Linked DNA regions of Homo sapiens: all the other regions are linked to region 1. The links come from fine-mapping of genetic effects on gene expression. A gene starts in region 1. Each other region holds a variant in brackets. All regions are shown on one strand. Distances are between the middles of the regions. Region 1 holds the start of NDN (necdin, MAGE family member). Region 2 has its middle 110 kb from the start of PWRN4. Region 3 holds the start of MIR4509-1 (microRNA 4509-1).

Evidence for each region. PIP is the estimated chance that this variant, and not a neighbour inherited with it, causes the effect.
Region 2: its variant is fine-mapped to the expression of NDN in whole blood (TOPMed, PIP above 0.99).
Region 3: its variant is fine-mapped to the expression of NDN in whole blood (INTERVAL, PIP above 0.99).

Annotation. Positions count from the first base shown.
Region 1 is chr15:23,684,051-23,691,862 of GRCh38, reverse strand. NDN (necdin, MAGE family member) reads left to right here and starts at 4,558. Exons shown (of 1, transcript NM_002487.3): 1 at 4,558-6,463. The coding sequence starts at 4,646. The coding sequence ends at 5,611.
Region 2 is chr15:23,865,084-23,872,895 of GRCh38, reverse strand. No RefSeq gene overlaps it. Among named protein-coding and RNA genes, the nearest start is that of PWRN4, 110 kb to the left of the region's middle. The variant A/C (reference allele first, on the strand shown) is at 3,358.
Region 3 is chr15:23,191,846-23,199,657 of GRCh38, reverse strand. MIR4509-1 (microRNA 4509-1) reads right to left here and starts at 1,831; the gene lies at 1,738-1,831. The variant A/T (reference allele first, on the strand shown) is at 3,373.

The sequences.
Region 1 (7,812 bases):
GGTGTGTGGGCATGGTTCCTTTTCTCTTTTCTCCACTTTCCTGTTAGTTTTCCCATGTCTGGAGGGCATTTATGTGTGCATGTGAAGGGAGACAGCCTCTGTGGCATGTGCTATGTTCTCACACAATGAAACATTACGCCATTCTCAGATCATTAAAGAGCCCTGCTCCAGACACTCTCAGGGTGATGTGATTTATCTTCTTTACCTTCCAAACTTAACTTTCCAGCGCAGGCGTTTTTGCTGAGTTGTGTCAATCCAGATATCCGCTGGGTAAGACCGTTCGGTCTTCCCACAATCTTCTGGTCCTTCTCTCTGCATGGTTTCAGGAAATGGCACCTGCATCTCATAGCTGCACTGTCCTGCTCAATTGGCTGCCTGAGACAGAATCCTGGATGTGCCTGTTATTCACAGTCTCCCCTCCCCTTCCATTGCTGTTTATATCTTTTGAACCTGGCATTTCTATTGAACCTCGGCTCCCTCTGTCCCACTCTTGGTGATAATATTGCTTCACAATATGCATCATAACATATGATTTGATCAGGCATTTGTTTTCTCTTTTAACGCTCTTTTTCTCCACCACTTTCCCTCAGTACAGATTACAGAGACCATGTCACTTCTCATTGTATCCCCAGGCACAAGGCCTGAAATGTAATGTTAGTAAACAGTTGGCGAATGAAGATGAAATGCAAGCCATCACCCATTTTCACATGGAGTCCTGGGAAGGGACCCCTAATGAGACTCCCTGCCTCTGCTTGTCCACCTGCCCCAAACTCTAATCTTACTCTGTATGCAGGTGACTTTTCAGAAGACACCCTAGACTCCTTAACTATCTGAGAGAGCTGCTCCTTGGGGCTGTGCAGAACAGAAAATTCTCCCATTTCAGTGCATGCGATGGACCTTGAATGGATGAGCATGAGCAGTGGCCCCCTAGGGAGGCTGGGGATGAGGGGCCAGGGTCCAGTCCCTCCCTACACCCTCCCAACTTTGGAAAGCAGCACTGCCTGTCCTAACTTCTTAATGTTTTCTAACAAAAAAAGGGGCCCAGCTGCCATGGGTTTTTCCCTCAGACTGAGACTTTTCTGAAATGCAAATATTTCAGGCACATGACGGATATTGCTCAATATTTGCTGAACACATTAAAGTGAATTCCGTTTAAGATCCTTGGCCTGAAAGGCATTTGGGGCCCATTTAGGGGCTCCAAGGTGGAGGTTGCTGCCTATGTGGACAGGGAAGAGCCAGAGGATTCACATTTCATCCAGGGCCTCTGGGCCCCTGCACTGCGAGCATGCGCACTTCCCACTAGAGGCTCTGGGGTGACCCCCCTTCCTCCGTTCACTATGGAAACCAAGGCTGGGACTGGCCTCTCCTCCTGTTCCTGGGTCTGCCAAGAACAGCCTATTCCACAGCTGTGTAATCTGTTCCGTATTACAGAGTTCGAAGTAACCCACCAGCAAAACTGTCTGCTCCAGAATATTTTAAGTTACAGCTTCTCCGTATATTTTCTGTGTCTATTCACAGAACTTCTATTTACAGAATTTTGATTTAATGAGTAGTTGAGATATATTTTTGTAGTCTTCACACTTTTCTACTAAGCTGCTGGCCCTGAGAGGACTTATTGCCCAACTCAAATAGGGGCCCCCCTGGAGACACCCAGCAAGATTTATTATCCCCATGACTCTCAGGACAGCATTAGAGCTCCATCCCAGATCTTGAGCCTTGGGTCAAGGTAGTTGTGGATGCCTTCCAAGTACTAGCTTCGTCTCATTTCTCACAGTGTCTTTGGTCCTTTTTGTTATTACTCTGAAGGTCGGAATCTCTGGTTCGTGGGCACACACCTTATTAGGCAGCCATCAAGCTACTGACCCGTCTATCCCATTGCACCTGCGCATGTGTGCTTTCCCCACTAACAGGCTATCCCAGGCTTTATTTTGTCCCACTACCCCACCTACCCAAACTTCTACTCCCAGTAATTTGATTTTGGGGGGGAATTGAACCTCTTCATTCTTCAGGAAGAAGATGATATCATTTTAGCAGGTGTACAGTTGGGCTCCAGGTCTAGCCTGTGCTTCATTTCAGACTTGTGCATCAGACCTAAGGCTTTAAGCCTTCCAAGTGTAATCTCTCAGGGTGGTCTTAATCGACAGGCCCTGGTACAGCATTGGACAACCCTTCTGTCAGAAGTGTAGTGTGTTGTGTGCTGCAGGAGAGGCCTTCTGCACAGTCTGCTTGATGCTGGCAACTTCACTAGAATGAAGTCCAGGTAGAAGTTATCCAGTCCTGCCCAGGCAGCAACTGAAGTCCAAGCAGCTCTCTGGCCAGAGCGCTGATACTCACTTCAGCAGAGCCACCTTTTATTGTTGTCATGCCCCAAGCCTGCACTTTAATTTCAAGAATCCATTACATCTCGGAGGGTGACATGTGAGAATGCAGTTTTAATGAGATCACAATGTTAAAAACCATAGCCTATGGCCAAAGCCAAGTTGAGATTTAAATAGTAGGTTCAAACACTTTTCTTATTAAAAAATATATCAAATGAACTAAATATTTTATTTCTTTATTTATTTAATGTTTGAGACAGTCTCGCTCTGTTGCCCAGGCTGGAGTGCAGTGGCATGCTCTCAGCTGACTGCAAACTCCACCTCCCAGGTTCAAGCGAGTCTCCTGCCTCAGCCTGCCAAGCAGTTGGGATTAAGGGTGCCCACCACCACACCCGGCTAATTTTTGTATTTTTAGTAGAGACGGGGTTTTGCCACGTTGGCCAGGCTGGTCTCGACCTCCTGACCTCAGGTGATCTGCCCGCCTCACCTTCCCAAAGTGCTGGGATTACAGGCGTGAGCCACCGCACCTGGCCTAAATATTTTATTTAAATAGTTAGAAAATAATACATACCCAAACAAAATAAAGAATAATATTGATGGAGATTTAAATGCAATAAATGAGGATTATATTTATGAAGCATGGGGGTAATAAGTCTGTTCAAGAGACATTCTTAAAAACAATGAATATAATTAGCATATTTCTGTAAGATGTTCCCAAGAAAATGGTAGATATCTATAAATAGAAGAAGGAGAAAAAGGAGAAGTAGATGGAGAGGAGAAGGAGGAGGTGGAGGAGGGTGAGGAGGAGGAGAAAAGTGTTGAAATAATTCCAACTAAGACTGATATCTAGGAATTACCCTGGTGAAGTGGGAAGCTTAAGAGTCCTGTTGGAGGGACTGGTGTGGTAATGGCTCTGCCAAAAGTGTTATGTGCGTGCAAACCCAAAGAGAGAAAGCACAGAAAACCTTTCAACATCAACCTGCTTGAGGAAAAATAAAGTGGGAAAAGATACATACTCACAGTGAGGACTCTAGACATGTCAAGACAATTTTTAAATATGCTTTTGGCTTCGAGTGGCAATAACTAGATTCAAGACAGCATATTTAAGAAGCTGCTGATGAGAAGAAACCCGGGAAGAGCTGAAGGACCACATCAGCCCAGACCAAGGATGCTGAAGCAGCATTAAGGTCCCTGGTTTCAGATGCTCAGGCAATGACCCTTTTTTTCATGGAGAGCCTGTAGGAGTGACAGTTTTGTCTTTGCCCACTGGGAATCTGTTTTCCATACCTGGAAAACAGGGTTACCTATGTTTCCCCTGCTACCCTTTGGTCATCTCAGAGACACTACCAGATATTACCCATGGGACCTATTTTTTTTTTAAATCTCAGGAAAGACTTGGGTGTGGCTTCCAACGTGGAGGACTCAGTAGCTTCAGAGAGGGTCCTGAGAGAAGGTGAATTGAAGAATGAGGGTGCTGGGCAGAGGGAAAAGACATTATCATACAAGTTTGTGCTAAAAGATATAGCAATCCTTCTGCTATGGACTAAGTATGGAAAAAAATAAAATGGAATCAAAGTTACCCAAAGGAAGTGTAAAACCCAAATTTATGCCCGTTAAAGCATTAATGATGCTCTAAGTCCACTGCCTACTTAAAAAGTTCATAGTTCACATGGGTTGATAGGAAATTACGTTAACGACACACTGCATTTCCCCTTTTCTTATAGCCTATCTGATTTGGTAGGGAGTCGATCATTTTTTATTGGAATTTCTCAGGATTCCAACCTCAGACATCCACTTTACAGTTTACACATTTTCTTGGACAAGCCCGACTGTTCCTCTCACTGGTTCGCATAAAGCTCATGTTTACAAAGCCGCCCAGACCTTTCTCTGGGACTCTCATATTTAACTTAATTCTGGATATACCCAGGTAAGCGTTTCCCAAGAAACTTGACCCCAACATCCCAAAAACTTAAGGTATCTTTCCCTTAAACTGGCCCCTTCTCCAGTACGCATCCATCTCACTTCTCTCCTGCCCTAGATCTTCTCAGCCCAAACAGGAAACCCCGGGATCGCTCTCCCAGCAGGTGAAGCCTCGCCATGGACCCTCCCCGTCGGGGCCCCGCGCTGCCCCGCCCGCCCCCAGCCGCTGGCCAAGGCCGCGGTCGCGCAGGCGCAGTGCCGCGTCCCGCCGCCGCCCCGCCCTGCCCGTCGCTGCGGAAGGCGCCGCGCGCAGCAACGCGCACTTCCTCTCCAGGAATCCGCGGAGGGAGCGCAGGCTCGAAGAGCTCCTGGACGCAGAGGCCCTGCCCTTGCCAGACGGCGCAGACATGTCAGAACAAAGTAAGGATCTGAGCGACCCTAACTTTGCAGCCGAGGCCCCCAACTCCGAGGTGCACAGCAGCCCTGGGGTTTCGGAGGGGGTTCCTCCGTCCGCGACCCTGGCAGAGCCGCAGAGCCCTCCTCTAGGCCCGACGGCCGCTCCGCAGGCCGCGCCGCCTCCCCAGGCCCCGAACGACGAGGGCGACCCGAAGGCCCTGCAGCAGGCTGCGGAGGAGGGCCGCGCCCACCAGGCCCCGAGCGCGGCCCAGCCGGGCCCGGCACCGCCAGCCCCGGCGCAGCTGGTGCAGAAGGCGCACGAGCTCATGTGGTACGTGCTGGTCAAGGACCAGAAGAAGATGATCATCTGGTTTCCAGACATGGTGAAAGATGTCATCGGCAGCTACAAGAAGTGGTGCAGGAGCATCCTCCGGCGCACCAGCCTCATCCTCGCCCGGGTGTTCGGGCTGCACCTGAGGCTAACCAGCCTGCACACCATGGAGTTTGCGCTGGTCAAAGCGCTGGAGCCCGAGGAGCTGGACAGGGTGGCGCTGAGCAACCGCATGCCCATGACAGGCCTCCTGCTCATGATCCTGAGCCTCATCTACGTGAAGGGCCGCGGCGCCAGAGAGAGCGCCGTCTGGAACGTGCTGCGCATCCTGGGGCTGCGGCCCTGGAAGAAGCACTCCACCTTCGGGGACGTGCGGAAGCTCATCACTGAGGAGTTCGTCCAAATGAATTACCTGAAGTACCAGCGCGTCCCATACGTGGAGCCGCCCGAATACGAGTTCTTTTGGGGCTCCCGGGCCAGCCGCGAAATCACCAAGATGCAAATCATGGAGTTCCTGGCCAGGGTCTTTAAGAAAGACCCCCAGGCCTGGCCCTCCCGATACAGAGAAGCTCTGGAGGAGGCCAGAGCTCTGCGGGAGGCTAATCCCACTGCCCACTACCCTCGCAGCAGTGTCTCTGAGGACTAGCAAAGTCTGGAGGCAGATGAATGGTTTCTGACCCTCACCAGGGCTGTGGAAGGGTGGGGGTGGGTCATTATAGTATTCAGGATTTACAGTGCAGTATTCACGTGTAACTTTTAAGTTTTCAGTACAGTGCTTTTATACCTTTAATGCAATGTTGTATTCATTTGGGTACTATTGTGTAGTATTTAGGATGTATGCATGTTTGTTTATATGTAAGCTTGGTTGGTGCTTTCGCTTTTGTGCTACCTTTCTTGGATTTTTGTACCAGAGATGTGCTAAACTGATGAAATACATTGAGAAAGTTTCCATCTTATTCTTTTATATGGGACTGATGATGTGTGTTGGGGTAGACTGCTCCTGCAGAGTTTGGAAGAAGTCACCAGCAAAGCCGGCCTAACCAAGAAAAGTCAAGGCCCTTCATGACCTTGCTGGGCACAGAAAACACCCTCGTGGAGTACACTAATTTGAACTGGACTGGTCTCAGTGTGAGCACTTGGCACACTTTACTAAACACATATACAACCCCACCGTGAGTCAACTTTAAAGTAAACATTAAAGATTCTTGTGATACAATCATTTTTGGAAAAGTGTACTTTATCATTTTAACAAAGCAGTATGGTTGGGAATGAGACAATTCTCTATTTTACAGTGTATACAGATACAACTATTTCCCCTAATAGGGTGGGAAAAATCGCTACTCATGATTACTCCTAAATTTGTGAAGTTTATAGTTCTATTGTCTTTAAATGTAACTCATGTTTATTTCAAAAACATTCACAAATATAGAAAAGTATACAAAACAAAACAGTAAGATTGTCTGTAATCACATCATATGGGAATAAAAAACAAAAATAATTTCCTTCCCTTAAGTTTCTACATTTTATCAAAATTAATAGATGTCTTGTGACATCTATTAATATACATATAACATATTTATAATATAAAAGAGTGAGACATTGTGCTAAGCCCTAACATGTATTTTTCTCCTTTAATCCTTGCAACAGGCCTGTCAGGCAGGCACCTACTGCCTCTGCACCATGGAGGAAACACAGGAATAATGTAGGTAATGAACTTTCCATAGCTCATAAAGGTTAATAAGAGAAGGAGCTAGGACTTGAACTCAGAATGAATCCAGAGCCCACATTTGTCTCCACCTGCCTACGACTGCCCTATACCCCGTGGCTTTTAGGTTATTTATTTTTAAATTTATTTTTACATTTTATGTGGGAGCCTACAATCACATGGGTTCATGGGCCACACATACAAAAAGGCTAGGAATTTTATTTTTCTAATTCTCATGATATTTTGGAGAAAGCAATATCATTCTGATTGTGCAAATTAAGAAACTTACTTTTGGAGAGGTTAATTAACCTAACAAAGTGATATTCCTATTTAGCAGTGAAGCTAGGATTTGAAACAATCTCTCCTGAGGGTTGGAGGTGAAGGCACCTTCTCTGACAAACACACAAGACACCTGAGAGAGGGAGGTGGGTTGTCCATCAGGATGTCTGTGGCCTTGCAGCCCTTCAGTTGCGGTGAGCCACTAGGTAATCCTCAGAGGATGGGGTGGGCTGCGGGTGGGCATTAGGGGCAATGCCTGAAGAAAAATCTCACTGTGAATTTTTAGTCCTGCAAGGGGTAGCGGGGAGAAAGGGGGCTTTAATAAGACTAGAAGTCCTTTAAACTACAAAAGAGTGGGAAAGACCATTTGGCCAAAGCCAGAAACTTTTCTGTGGAAGATGGATAATGAAGAGGACACATGTCACATAACACCCCAAAGAAGTAAACTGGGAGTCCTATTAGGGTGAGGGAATTATAATTTGGAATTGCCAACACTTACTGGCATTACTTAACAGGTGGGGGCAGGTGCTGGAAATGCTTAGGAAGCCCCTGTTCATGCTGAGATGAAATCCATCCCGGTTTAAAAGCTTCCTGTGAAGATTTTCAAGGGGGTTCTGCAGAGAAAGGGGGACATTTCTGCAATCACCCAGGCAGGGGTGACCTGGCTTTGATGGCACCTCTTACACAAAACCAATGTGAGTGTCTCACCTGTTCAGAAGTGTTAGGATTGTTTGGAAATCTTACCTCCCCACAACCCATCGAAAAGTTTCTCCAGAATCAAAATAAACCTGCCCGTTATCATTTAAAATTGTGGGGATATCCAGGATGTTTCATTTCTGGAGTAGGACTGTGGGCTGTTGTTC
Region 2 (7,812 bases), 180 kb before region 1:
CAATCAGCAATGTGGCCTTTGATAGCAAATTTTGCATCTCTGATTTGGCAAAACCAAGACTTCCTATTTTACTCTTGAGAAATTTGCATTGCAGTGAACACAATATTGGGAATTAACTAATTTTGTAGTCTGCCACTCTCCATTCATGACTATTAATGATAGTCCTAGATGAGGACTGTGACCAGGTCCTGAGTTTGAGATCAACGTAATATTTATGCATGGTATCCCACAAATGCATGGTTGCAGGACGGGAGATGATACAATAAGAAGCAAAGAATAGGGAGGCATAGGAAAAAAATGTATGCCAAATGCCTCATAATATCACTGCTGTTTAATGCTTAAAATTGAGTTTGGCTTTATGACATTGTTTCAGTTAATATCATAGTCTTGTCACACACAGTGTGACCTTAAGAAACATATTTTCTCAGTCTTAGAGTATTGTGTTTTTAAACTTCTTTAAGTGCTGTTTTCTATTTTTATCTTTAAGACAAGATGTGTAAATTCATGTGAATAACTATTAAGATAATGGCTAGCAATTATTCAATTCATTTTACGTGTCAAGAATTGTTCCATGTGTTTTCCATGAATCACGTCATGCCATGGCTACTGTTACAGGTCTGACTCAGTGTAAGGTGATTCTCCCTACAAGAAAATGATAAGCCCCTGGAGTAAACCCACAGCTTAACTGGTAGGTGTTTAGTTTGAGCAAGTATACAGTATTTTACAACTGAGCAAGTAATCCACACATGCCATCTGTCAAGAGATGTAATGGTAATCCCCATCACTGACCTCAACTCATCCTCCAATACTGGAGGAATAAGAAGGTCTACATGTTGAGCGTGGTAGAAAAGAAAATCAGGTTGGGACTCAGGACATACCTGAGCTTTCAGAACAGTCCAAGATGGTTACGATGATTTGAATATTTGATGTGATATGAAATAAATCCTCATTGCATCTTAAAGAAATGAGATTAAGATTTTTCTTTTATACCAGAATTCTTAAAACATGGTCTTTAGGCTTGAATTACAAATAGGCAGCACTTACAGCAAACACCCACACCAAAGTTCCCCAGAATGCCTCTCAATGTTTATTTTAAACACGGTCTTTGTCATTTGCTTTCTCTCTGCTCTTTCCTCTGGTTTATTGTCCATCTGTAATGAGTCAACCAATCAGGCCACTCCCAAAAAAACTTACCAAAGGCATGTGAAAGGTTTAGTTAAAAGCAATAAAAAGTATTTAAATAGCTGCTAAATCAAAATGACTGAATTATGTATTCTAATTAGTAAAGGAGAGGAAATGTACTTTTTCAATATGAAAACTGTTTCTCATATTATGTCATATACAACATAACTCTACAAGATGATGTACATTATAGTAAAAAGTAATATAACTTGGGTAGCAATTTGCTACTATATAAGATTTCAGAGATGCACATCCTTTGACCCAGAATTTTAAATTCTATGAATATATTCTACAAAAATAATAGACCTCTAGTACAGACGAATGTACAGGGATGTGGACTCCAATACTGTTTCTTTTGGCAAAATACAAAAAGAAAACAAACTACTGTATATATCCATCAAAGAATAATGGATAATTTTTTAAATATACTATAACACACCCTTTCAACAGATTAACATACAAATATTAGAGATAATCAGTAATTTCTGAATATTTAACACATCCACAGTAAAAGACTATAGAACAGAACAGTGAGATGATTTTTCTTCCTATACAGTGGTGAAGAGGATGGTAGGGTGCAGCGAACCAGAGGGATGGTATTCTGATTTCATCACTTAATGCCTTTGTAACCTTTCAATAGTTACCCTATCACATTTTAGTGTCCTCACTTGTGCAGTGGATGTAAGAAGGCATACTATGTATTTTTTTAGTTATAACGTTCCAACCAATTAAAGGAGCATTGATAACACCGCATGGCAATTCTATGACTTGATATATCTAGTTTAAATTAACACAATTAACCTTGTATAGTCTACTGCACGCAGGAAAACAGAAATATGCATATTTGTGTATATAGGTATTTACAAGCATAGATCTGAAAACGCAGACACCCAGGTATGAATGTTGAAGGTGGTTGCAAATTTCAGGATTCAGAAAGTAGATGACAGTCTATTATTATGTAATTTTTTTCTAGATTTAAATTTTTATCAACAAAATATTTTCTTCCCTCAAAAATTAGAAAGTTAACACAGCAAAATAATTACTCGCATATAGTTCTGAATATTCCTCAAAGAAAATTTCTAAGTCTATAAGAAGACAGCTGAATATCATTCCTAAATGTCATATCAGGAATTTTGTTATTGGGATTTCTTTCCTGCCTCTGCTTCACCCTTAACTTTGTCAATGTCCTTTTATAATACTTTTAGAATACAGAAGAACATGGAGGTAAATTCCACATAATTTACAACACATAGGAAAAAAGGACCTACACTTGCTTATTTTGTGAGAGGTGGCAGTGAAGAGATTTCTGCAACAGATGACTGAGCTAGGAGATGGCACACGAGGTACAAGGGTGGGGGTAAGTTAGAAACAAAATTCTGAAGTCGGAGGAGTTTCATATAGAAGTGGTTCAAAAATGAAGTTCAATAGTTTTCCTATTAATGAATTTAATAAAGTTGTTTAAGTGGAATGAAAATTAAAAGATTGGGGGTAAAAATCACAAACTTTTAAATAAGGTTATATACTGGTAATAGTCACAGGATTTTAAAGATAATGTATAAAACTATGAAGAAATTTTGCTTCTGGAGCTTTTGTGGTAGATGAAAAAGTCCAAAGAACACAAAATAGAGAATCAGTATCCAAATCTAAAATCAAAATTGATGTTGACTTCCCATTAAACAAAAAACTCCACATCAATCTAAACATTCAAAAAAAAAAGTCTTACCAATGTAATTAAAGTAGAAATATAAAGCGCTAATAATACAAAGGAATACAAAAACTTTATTTGTGGATCGTCACATGAATATAAAATCGATAGATATTAACAACACTTTTACGTTTTCCAGAAAAAAAAAAAAGCCACTCCCTTTATATGGTAGGAAACAAACAAACAAGCAAAATCCACGTCTGGGGGCCTAAACCCTAGAAAGAATGAAGTCAGGGGAGTTGAGCGATATTTCCCATCTCAATTTCCCCGCGCAAACCAGAGACGAGAAATTCCTAGCAAGCGCCCTGATCTTAAAGGGACCTGGCCAAGGCCCAAGAGCCTGAGGCCCGCAGGAGCGCAGCCGCTCCTCCTGGCTCCGCCTCACCAGCGCTGAGCGGAAGCTCCTGGCCCGACCCCCGTAGCCGAAGGCCTCCCCGCCCACATGACCTTCCCACAGCACACCGCGAGGT[A/C]GCCTCCTGTCTGACCGGCGCTCCTGCGGCAGTGCGCTGTCAGGCGCACCCATGGTTACCATCCTGGGACAAACCGGGAATACCCGGAGACCAGAGGGTTATTGAGTCTTCTCTCTGGGCTGTTAAGAAGTCAAGAATAAACAGTTTCCAAAAGTCTCTGTCACCCCACGATCGATTTCTATATCCTTGCTGCTTTTCAGCATAGCATAAAATAAGTGTAAAATAACTTTTTTTTTTGCCGTTGCTTCCAGAAAAAAGCATTTCAGGTTGCATGGAAAGAAAATCCTGTAGTTTATACGTTCTGTAGCTGCATTCTTACAGGTCAGTCCTGAAAAGCTGAATCTGAAAGGTTAATAGCTTACGAAGTAGCGTGCACCCTAAAATACGTATTTAGACAAATGTACCAGTACCAACAAAATCACAGTAAGAAGAAAATACTCAAAAATGGTTTTAAAAAATAGCACTTGTCATACTATTCAGGGAGACTCTTGTTACAATTTTTCACTGAATATATTTTGTATATAACATAAAACTTAATAAAAATCTACAATCCAGAGTGGATGTATAAAGATTTTAGAATTTCCAGCCATATATTAAAAAGTAACCTTAGATTCTCCACCTTTGACCATATATATAAATTCTAGATGTAATAAAAGACTATGCATCTTAAAAGAAAATTAAACAGCAATAAAATATTTCCTAACTGTCCACGTGAAATCGGAAATATTTACATTTGTCCATAAAATTATTTAATAATGTTTAAGCATACTAGAGAAAGACTACAAATAATAGTTAAATATTTGTAATGTATTTGCAGTGAAGGACCCAATATAATGCTAATAAAATATCATGACCTAAAATTAATAAGTAATAAAAGCAACCTAATTTTAAAAATAATGTATTAAGTGACATGAGCAGGCACTTTTCCAGAAAAACATAAATAACACAATAAACACTATGTATCCTCCAAAATTAAATAAGCTAATTAGAGAAACCACTTTAGCCTGACTGGGGAGAAAATGAATTACTAATATTTAGGCTTGAGAATTGCCTATGTAATTTATTACATACACTTTTTTTTTTTGAGACATTGTCTCACTCTTGGTGCCCAGGCTGGAGTGCAGTGGCGTGATCTCGGCTCACTGCAACCTCCGCCACCGGGGTTCAAGCAATTCTCCTGCCTCAGCCTCCTGAGTAGCAGGATTACAGGTGCCCACCACTATGCCCGGCTATTTTTTGTATCTTTAGTAGAGACGGGGTTTCATCATGTTCAGGCCAGGCTGGTCGGGAACTCCCAACCTCAGGTTATCCACCCACTGCCGCCTCCCAAAGTGCTGGGATTACAGGCGTGAGCCACGATGCCTGGTCTGTTACATACACATTTTAATGTAGGGTATGTATTGCTATATACGTTTTTGACTCACTGATTTTATTATTACTGAAGTGTAAGGTTCATCAGAATGCTTTCTGCAGCATTTTCTGCAAAATTTAAAAATAAAAATACACTAAATTTTTATGAATAGGCCATAGGCAAATTGAAGGGTATATGTATTTTGGAATACAAAGTGCTAACAAAAATACTGCAGTGGATATCTAATGATATGGAAAGAGCACTATGACATACTACAGATAACCAATTTGGAAAATAAAATGTGAATATCACCTATATAGCTATATATACATATATATATAGCTAGATCAATCTATTAAATATATATAGAAACATATACATTAGTAGATATAGATCTGGTTAAATGCCATTGAAAGCATTATGAAAAATCTAATATCTATATTTATAGCTGTATCTACATCTAAATTGCTATCTCTATGTAGGTAGACATATAAGTTCATTTGGATACATTGGTAGACGTACTGGAAAATATGCACACATAAACACAGTTAAAAATGGTATGCAGTCGGCGGGCCCAGTGGCTCACGCCTGTAATCCCAGCACTTTGGGAGGCCAAGGCAGGCAGATCACAAGGTCAGGAGATCGAGAACATCCTGTCTAACACGGTGAAAACCCGTCTCTACTAAAAAACAAAAAATTAGCGGGGCGTGGTGGCGGGCACCTGTAGTCCCAGCTACTCGGGAGGCTGAGGCAGGAGAATGGCGTGAACCCGGGAGGCGGAGCTTGCAGTAAGCCGAGATTGCGCCACTGCACTCCAGCCTGGGCGACAGAGTGAGACTCCGTCTCAAAAAATAATAATAATAATAATGGTATGCAGTTAAATGGAAAAAAGGATATTGTGTATATACATTTTAATGTTTAATTTGTAATCTTCTGTACGTTTGAATATTCACAGTAAATTGTACGAATTGTATAATTTAAAAGACATTATAATTTGCTGTTCATTGAAGTCCATCAACAGTGGTTCCTTGGAATCGTTTCTGTCCAGGACTCTGAACTCTGTCTTCACAATCACCACCACGATCTACAGCAGCTGCTGGGAGCCTGGGTTCTTAGAAATTTGTTTGCTCTCATTCTTCCATTTTTGGATGACAGATGGCGCTACAACATGGGTTTCTGATAGTTGCATAAATTTCTAACACTGACAACTCACATATGAATGAAGTGGATTTTAACGTTAAAAAATGGAGTTGTTCTCAGGGTTCACACATTTTCTTCGAGGAAGAGAAATTAATGTAAATTTTCACAGGAAGAGTTTAAGGGCTTTAGCAACTGGGGAATGCAGGGCACTATCCCTGTGCTAAGAAAAAGCTGCAAAATAAACTCTCTTGACTTCTCACTCAAATGTCTTCTCACTCAAATGACTTCTCACTCAAATGTCTAAGAGCAGTTTCTGTTACAATTCAGTAATTTTTATGGACACAGGATGGCTCCCCAACTCCAAAGTGACAGAAATATTAATATAATAAACAGTGAGCCTGGAGGAAGATTTAATTGCGGTATATCTCAGTTGGAATATGCAGAAAATGGATAGAAGAGGTAGTGGAAGAGGTGCTGGAAAATTGTGGGTTGAGAACAAAAACAGAGGTATACATTTAAACTGAAAGACTTTAATAGAGAAGGCAGTCACTTCCCTCAAATTATTGAAGCACAAGCGAATTTCCCAATATTAGCAATTTTTAAGCTATGAGCAAAATCTTCCATTAGCCACTTTGTTTTAGGGTATTTCTAGGGGCTTATGGGCTTACAGAAGACCCTGCCTCATGATTTAACTAATGCATTCGTCACTTTTGCATGGTCAACAAGTGCTAGTGAAAAAGGGATAATAGAAAAATAGTATAAAGCTGAATGTAGCCCGTGAGTATATAAACTCATATAAATAAGATACTACAAATCAGAAAAGAACTGAATAATTTATTTTTGAAGGAAAACAATATTCCAGTAAGGAAGTGCTGGAAAAAAGCATGGGAACATGTCAAAGTCTACAGAAGCCAGCCTGAAGGAGTCAGAATTCCAAATAATTTATATAGATAATCTCCCCTTGAGGAGGTAGAGCATATCTTATGACTTAAGTGTGGGCTTCTCATAGTGACTTCCTTCTAAGGAGTATAGTATGGAAATGGAGAAAAATAAATACTTTTACAGTGGAGAACCCTGAGAATCATTGTCCAAACCAGGTGTTGAAGGTCAACATCAACAGTGATAATTCATGTTGATAACATATACCATTGATAGGATGTTATAAAACTGGCAGTTTATCTTGATGAACCTTCTCCCTCAAAATCCATAGCACCAGTCTAATAATGAGAAAATCATAAAATAGATCCCAATTGATGGATGTTTTACAAAATATTTGACCAGTAATTCTAAAAAGTGTCAAAGTTATCAAAAACAAGGAAAGTCTAAAAAAGCCATCACAGTCTAGAGGATCCTAAGGAAACATGATGAGTAAATGGGGTTTGGAATTCAGACTGAGATCCTGGAAGAGACAAAGCACACATTAGATGGACACCAGGGAAATTTGAATAAGTGTGCATTTTAGTTAATAATACACCAATATTGGTTCATTCACTGTAATAAATGTACCATACCTATGTAAGATGTCAGTAAGGGCAAAACTGGGTGTCAGATACTCTGGACTATCTTTAGGAGGAACTCTGAGTAGCTACATAGGAAATTTCTTTACTACTTTCCCATCTTTTCTGTAAATTTAGAACTGTGTTACAAGAACTTTAATTTTAAAAAATAGATAAAAGGTAGTAAGGGATTTAACCCAATGATCGAAATGAGAATCATGAGTCCAAACCAATATAAATCAGTGAATGAATGAATGAAGGTGAAAGTAAAACTCTTCCAGACAGTAGGATACCGACTAATAACTAAAGGATAAATGATAAAGGAATTACAAAGTCATGAATTTATGCTAAAATAGTAAGTTAAATTGTGACTATGTATCTTCCCACAAATTACCTTTATTAATTACAAAATGGAAATGTTAATTATGGAGAAATCTATCCTAATCAAGTGATCAAAGTTACTATCAC
Region 3 (7,812 bases), 490 kb after region 1:
ACACTGGGGGTACCCAATGCCTGTACCCCCATTGTATGTAGGAAGTAACTAACTTGCTTTTAGTTTTACAGGCTCATAGGTGGAAGGGACTTGTCTCAGATGAGACCTTGGACTGTGGACTTTTCAGTTAATGTTGAAACGAGTTAAAACTTTGGGGGACTGTTGGGAAGGCATGATTGATTTTGAAATGTGAGAACATGAGATTCAGGAGGCGCCAGGGGAAGAATGATATGGTTTGGCTATGTCCCTACCCAAATCTCATCTTGAATTGTAGCTCCCATAATCCCCATATGTCATGAAAGGGACCCAGTGGGAGGTAACTGAATCATGGGGATGGGTTTCTCCCTGTGTTGTTCTTGTGAAACCGAATAAGTCTCACAAGATCTGATGGTTTTATAAAGGGGAGTTCCCCTGCACATGCTCTCTCTCTTGCCTGCCACCATGTAAGACATGTCTTTGCTCCTCCTTTGCCTTCTGCCATGATTGTGAGGCTTCCCCAGCCACGTGGAACTGAGTCCATTAAACCTTTTTTTCTTTATAAATTACCCAGTCTCAGGTATTTCTTCATAGCAGTATGAAAGTGGACTAACACAGTATCAAACCCTGGTTTGGGGTAATAATCACTACCTTCTAGGTAACCAGAATGGAAAAAATATAACAGAAAAAAAATCCTAAAAATCATCCTGCGTACAAGAAAAATGAAACTGTATGCTGAATTCTCAGGGGGAGAAAACGTATTTAAAAATATATGACTTTCAAACCACAAGAAACTATAGACCATTGCTTTAAACTATTTGTCTATGAACAGTATGTAGAAACACATGGAATTTAGGAAATAGGAGATGAAGGCTACAATAACAAAAGAGGCTCATATCACAAAATGGGAGATAGCTGAGATGAGGCTTCTATGAAAACTAAAGTGCAAGGGCAGATTTTCCATCCACAGGGAAATCCGTGGAGAAAGAAACTGACACACTGAAAAGTTCAAGCAGCAATTGAATCAGAGCTCTGGAGGGCAAAGGAAGAGATGAACTAATGACAGAGAAGAAGGCGGATGGGTATGCCAGAGACCACAGGTTCCACCTCGAGAATAGTTTGTGTACTGGGGAAAGACACAAGGGCAAGGAGATCTGAAACAATAATCAAAGCTATCACTGAAGTACGAATAATAAAAGCACCAACCAGCTTCTAGGCAGGGAGGGGGAAGAAACAAGGAAGAGTTCTCCATATTTAAATAACAACTAGCCAAACTCCTGAATTTTACAAATAAATAAAAAAACTTCCTTAAAAATAAAAAGTCAGGCTTAGATAAGACTTTTTTTCTTCTCTGTTAACATTATTAGAAGACATAAAGATTTTAAGAGAATAAAAATATGATCAAGAGGATCATAAATATCAGGTTGTCTTTACCTGAGTACGAAGCAATGGCATCTGTATATCCAGCACTGATTTGTCCTTCCAATAAAAATTTACTCAAAGACATATGGGTACATATTAGAAAAATAATCAAAATTAATATTTCAAGGATTAGGAAGTTGTGAAGCCAAAATCCTGCAAGGGGACAATTGATTCAGTTAATGGAAAGATTTATTTTTCATATTTTATGATTATTTACCAAAATAATATTTTTAAAGTATAATTATAAAATAAAAATAAAATATTTAACAATACTATAATTATAATCATGTTCCAAGTTATAAAACAAGATAGTGAGAATTGTCAGTAAGATAGTAAGAATTCTAATACTATCTCAAAATAAAGGATACAGAAGGTTTCAGGGCAAGAGAAAGGGAAAACCTTCTATATCCTTTAGTTTGAGATAGTATTAAAGCTTTCTGTAGGCTCACTCAAAATGTCCGGATTCTGACCACATTTGAATGAGCACTCCCAACCTGACGATTCCTAGTCTAAGCCACACATATTTCCTCTTATGGTTATTGCAAAAGCTCCCTAACTGGTCTCCCAGCTTCTGCCGTTGATTCCTTTCAGCTATTTTTTACACAAGTGCCAGAGAAATCTCAGAAATGCAATTCAGATGATATCACTTCTTTGCTTATATCTTTCAATGTTGTTCCCCTCTACGTGTTCATGTATTCTCCCCTTTGACTCTCGCTTCTAAGTGGGAACATTTGGTTTTCTGTTCCTGCATTAGTTGGCTAAGGATAATGGCTTCCAGCTCCATCCATGTTCCTACAAAGGGCGTGATCTCATCTTTTATGGTGGCATAATATGCCATGGTGTATATATACCACATTTTCTTTATCCAGTCTACCATTGATGGGCATTTATGTTGATTCCATGCCTTTGCTACTGTGAATAGCGCTGCAATAAACATATGCATGCATGTGTCTTTATGACAGAACAATTTATATTCCTTTGGGTGTATACCCAGTAATAGGATTGCCGGGTCGAATGGTAGTTCTTTTAGGTCTTTGAGGAATCACCACACTGTCTTCCACAATGGCTGAACTAATTTACACTCCCACCAACAGTGTAGAAATGTTGCCTTTTCTCCACAATATTGCCAGCATGTTATTTTTTGGCTTTTTAATAATAACCATTCTGAATGGTGTGAGATAGTATCTCATTGTACTTCTGATGTGCATTTCTTTAATGATCAGTGATGCTGAGCTTTTTTTCTATGTTTGTTGGCTGCATGTATGTCTTATTTTGAAAAGGAGGGTGAAAGCTGGGAGGAGGGAGAGGATCAGGAAAGACAACTAGTGGGTAGCAGGTTTACCATGTGGGTAACAGAATAATCCGTACAACAAACCCCCATGACACAAGTTTACCTACATAACAAACCTGCACGTGTACCACTGAACTTAAAAGTTAAATTTAAAAAATAAAAAATAAAAAAATCTTTCAATGGTCCCATGTCAGTTTGAGGAACAGCCAAAGTCCTTAAAATGACGTACAAGGTGCTCGTTCCATCATCCGTCTTCTCATGTTTATTTCTCTGCCACCATCTACTAATACTCTTCCCCCTTCTCATTCTACTCCAGCTATAATGGCTTCCTCGATGCTGTTCTAAGAATAAGTCCACATGATTCCGACTCAGGGCTTTTGCCCAAGCTGTGGTCTCTCTTTGGAATGCTCTTTTTTCAGCAGAGCACGATTCCTCCTCATTTCCTTCAAGAAGTCTGTCGCCAAATGCCTTCTACCTGGTGTGTAATTGTCATGTGTGGCAGTTTTAAACATAGTCCAAAAACAGGTTGATATTCTTCTCATCAAAAAATAGGTCTATGTCTCCCTTCCCTAAATCTGGACGTGCTTGTGACTGCTACAATCAATAGAGTATGACAAATAATTCTACCTGACCTTTAAGGTGAGATAAAAAGAGACCAGGCCTTTTCCACCTGGTTCCCTTGG[A/T]GTGTTTGATCTGCGGAAAGCCAGCAGCCATATAAGAAGTTTACCCTGTGCAGGCCGGGCGCGGTGGCTCAGGCCTGTAATCCCAGCACTTTGGGAGGCCAAGGCGGGTGGATCACGAGGTCAGGAGATCGAGACCATCCTGGCTAACACGGTGAAACCCCGTCTCTACTAAAAATACAAAAAAATAGCTGGGCCTGGTGGTGGGCGCCTGTAGTCCCAGCTACTCGGGAGGCTGAGGCAGGAGAATGGCGTGAACCCGGGAGGCGGAGCTTGCAGTTAGCCGAGATCGGGCCACACCACTCCAGCCTGGGGGACAGTGAGACTCCGTCTCAAAAAAAAAAGAAAAAAAAAAAGTTTACCCTGTGCAGGCACTATAACTAAGAGTCCTTCCCATCTGAGCCTTGCCTTCCAGACAACTCCACCAATTTATAAGACAGAAAAAAAGCACCTTGCACCTTCCAGACTGACTTGTTTGCCAGCCGACTAGCACTGAGTCACCCTAGTTAATGATGTGAGAGAGGAAGAATCACTCAGATGAATCCTGCTGGAATTTCTCACCTATAGGATCCATGAGATATAATGAAGTGGTCGTTGTTTTACCTTATTAAATTTAGGGTAGTTTCTTTTTTCTTTTTCTTTTTTTTAATTTTTTTTTTTTTGAGACGGAGTCTCCCTCTGTCGCCCAGGCTGGACTGCAGTGGCGCGATCTCGGCTCACAGCAAGCTCCGCCTCCCGGGTTCACGCCATTCTCCTGCCTCAGCCTCCCGAGTAGCTGGGACTTAAGGCGCCCACCACCACCAGGCCAGGCTAACTTTTGTATTTTTAGTAGAGACAGAGTTTCACCGTATTAGGCAGGATGGTCTCGATCTCCTGAACTCATGATCCGCCCGTCTCAGCCTCCCAAACTGCTGGGATTACAGGCGTGAGCCACGGCACCCAGGCCATTTGGGTTAGTTTCTTAAGCAGCAATAGTAACTGTAACACTGACTCACTTCTACTGCCACCAATCACTATCCACTTTTCCTGATTTACTTCTTCCTATGTACCATCTTTTAAAAAACAAATAATTAGGCCGGGCTAAGTGGCTCACGCCTGTAATCCCAGCACTTTGGGAGGCTGAGGCGGGCGGATCACGAGGTCAGGAAATCGAGACCATCCTGGCTAACACGGTGAAACTCTGTCTCCACTAAAAATACAAAAAATTAGCTGGGCGTGGTGGTGGGTGCCTGCAGTCCCAGCTACTCGGGAGGCTGAGGCAGGAGAATGGCGTGAACCCAGGAGGCGGAGCTTGCAGTGAGCCCAGATGGCGCCACTGCACTCCAGCCTGGGCGACAGAGCGAGACTCCGTCTCAAAAAAAAAATAAAAATAAAAAATAAATAAAAAAAGATTTTTAATATATATATACAAGAATATGTGAAACAGTATGTTTTCAAGTTTCCATTGAATATTTTAAAAATAGATTATATAAAACCTCAATATATTTTTTAAAATAAAAACCACACAGGTCACATTACCTACTCAAAATTTAATTACATTAGAAATTAAGACAAAGTTAAAACAGGACAACCAGCACCCCTAGTATCACCCTCCTCAGAGTATTTAAAAATAGATTCCTTTAAATTATCTCTTTTTTTACAAGAATAAAATCTAATCAATTATTAGAAAGATAATCTCAAACTGAACTCAAAAGAAGAAGCAAAGCATCTTCAAAGTCAATAAGGGTGCTATAAATGCTTCTTGGACTCTGAAACTCTCTGACTTCCCATTCTACTCTCAGTTGTAGAAAACTCCCTGATTGTTAGGTTTTGGTGTGATTAGGTTAGGTTTACCCAGGTACTCCCCCCGTCTTAAGGCTGACGGATTATTAGCCTTAGTGACATGTGCAAGACTCCTTTGCCGTGTGAGGTATCAACAGGGTAACATGAGGAAATGAAGGTCATAGGGGCTATCTTAGACTTCTTCCTGCTACAACCTCTATTCACTTATTTTGAATCCTCAGAGTTTAATGAGCTCCTACTATGTTCTAGGTCCTTGCAATAGGAGTACAGCAGTGAACAAGACAAACATGGTTCTGGTCCTTGGAGTACAAAGTAAATGCTGAAAATTTAATAAATGGGTCAGTAGATAGATAGATGTATAAAGGTCTAAATGCACATTCAGAAAATAGCAGGAGAAGACTGAGACTCAGTATTATTGAATATGCTTTAAAGGCCCATGTGTCGTCTTGAATGAAAATGTTGCTCAATTTCTGATGAGGAGACTAATTCATCAATATCTGTTATCATTGACTGATGACCTCACATAATAAAAGATCTTGACTTGAGTGTACGTTAATAATCAACATAATGGGTAATGTATCAAAAGAGTATATGGAAGATAATAAAAAGATATAAATTGAAATCTTAAACAGTTTTGTGCTAAAATATGTTTAGAATTGCTTGAACCCAGGAGGCGGAGGTTGCAGTGAGCTGAGATTATGCCACTACACTCCAGCCTGGGCAACAAGATCCAACCTCCGTCTCAAACAAACAAACAAACAAACAAACAGAAACAACCCAAACAAACACAAAAAATTACTATAATTGTATCTCTTTTGACTATAGCCTGGAAGAAATCACTCTCTCCCCAACTTAAGGAAGGGGAGACTTATCTCTAGCCAAGCTTTGAGTATAAACATATAAAAAGTAATTTTCATTTTCTTGAAACTGACTGCATGAAAAGGCATATGGTGTTCCCAAAAAATGTCTGATGAGTGAGAATATTAAAATGACTAAACTGATGGGACATATTTAATTTAATATTTAAACTTGATAAAAAATAGTTAAGCATTTAACTCAAGAATTTCAAAATGGTACAGCAAAGCATACAAGCAAAATTAAAAGGAATGCTAATTACATATTAAGTTAGAAGGCAATAAATTATAAACAAAAACAGTAACAATTTATAAACATACACAAGTTCATTCTTTAACAAATAACCCATGATACAGAAAAATACAGCAAATGTGATAAAACAAAAACTGAGAAAACATAAAATTTAAAGTGAAAAAAAAAACAAAACATGCAGAAATTGTTTTAAAGACAAAAAATACTATCTTAGAAAATTAAATACGTGTTTCACTAAAATAAACATGTACTGCTTAAATGAATCTTAATTTAATTTTAAAAATAGTAAATAGGTTGCAGGCATCAATGTTTGCAAGAAATGTAAAACATTATTTTAAAAATTTTTATTAAAGTCCCTATAACCAGTGTTTTTAATAAGCATCTGTTTAAAACATCTTGTAAAATGGACCCCAGACTAGGAAATATGGATAAAGTTATAAAAAGTGGCTTCCTTTCAGTTCATTTTACAAAGCAAATATAACTATTACTAACTCTTGATGAAGTGAATACAAAAAGAATAAAATTACTAAACAGTATCCCTTATAAACATAGTTAAAATATTCTTAACTGAAAGAAAAAGGAACTGAATTCTACACTTACTAAGAAATCACCCACCCCAGTGATTTGGCATACAAAGATTTAATACTAGAAAATATGTATTAATATAATGCAACACAACAATAAAGCTATTTACCTTATATTGTACATTTACTGCTACAGACTAAATGTTTACATCCCTCTCAAATTCATATGTTGAAATGCTAACCGCCAGTGTGAGGGTTTTTGAAGGTGGGGCTTTTGGGAACTAATTAAGTCATGAGAGAGCAGCCCTCATTAATGGGTTTAGCACCCTTCTAAAGCAGCCCCCTGAACTCCCTTGCTCCTTCCCCAACTGAGGTTATAGAGAAAGGGCAGCCTTCTTTGAACTAGAACAAAAGTTTTTCCCAGACACCAGATTGGCTAGTACCTTGGTCTTAGATTTCCCAGACCCCAGAACTGTGAGAAATTCCTTTCTGTTGTTTATAAGCCACCAAGTCTATGGTATTCTGGTACAGCAGCCCATTTTTGATATTTATTTAATGATATTTAACATGCATGACTGATGAAATTTAACAAAGTAGTTATAGATATGTCCTTACCATGATTAAAAATAACTCTTAAATTGATGCATACTTTTATTATCTAGTTCTAGCCAAAGCCATAAGATGAAAACACAAATAAGAAACCACCTATATGGCACATGTATACCTATATAACAAACCTGCATGTTCCGTGCATGTATCCCAGAACTGAAAATCATATTTTAAAAAAATTTATTTATATAGAAAAAAAGAGAGCAAATGATATTTTTCAAAAACTGATAATTTAATTATGGTAAGTTCTGTGTGATATGTGCCTGATATGTGTGATATGTGTCTGATGTGATATGTGTGAGATGAAAAACACTAAGGGGGTATGTGATTTTGGGCATTCATGTGCCCATAAATCCTTGTTAGAATTAAAATATCACATTAAACCTCTCTCTTTCTTTTAATGTCCATGGTTTCTTTTATA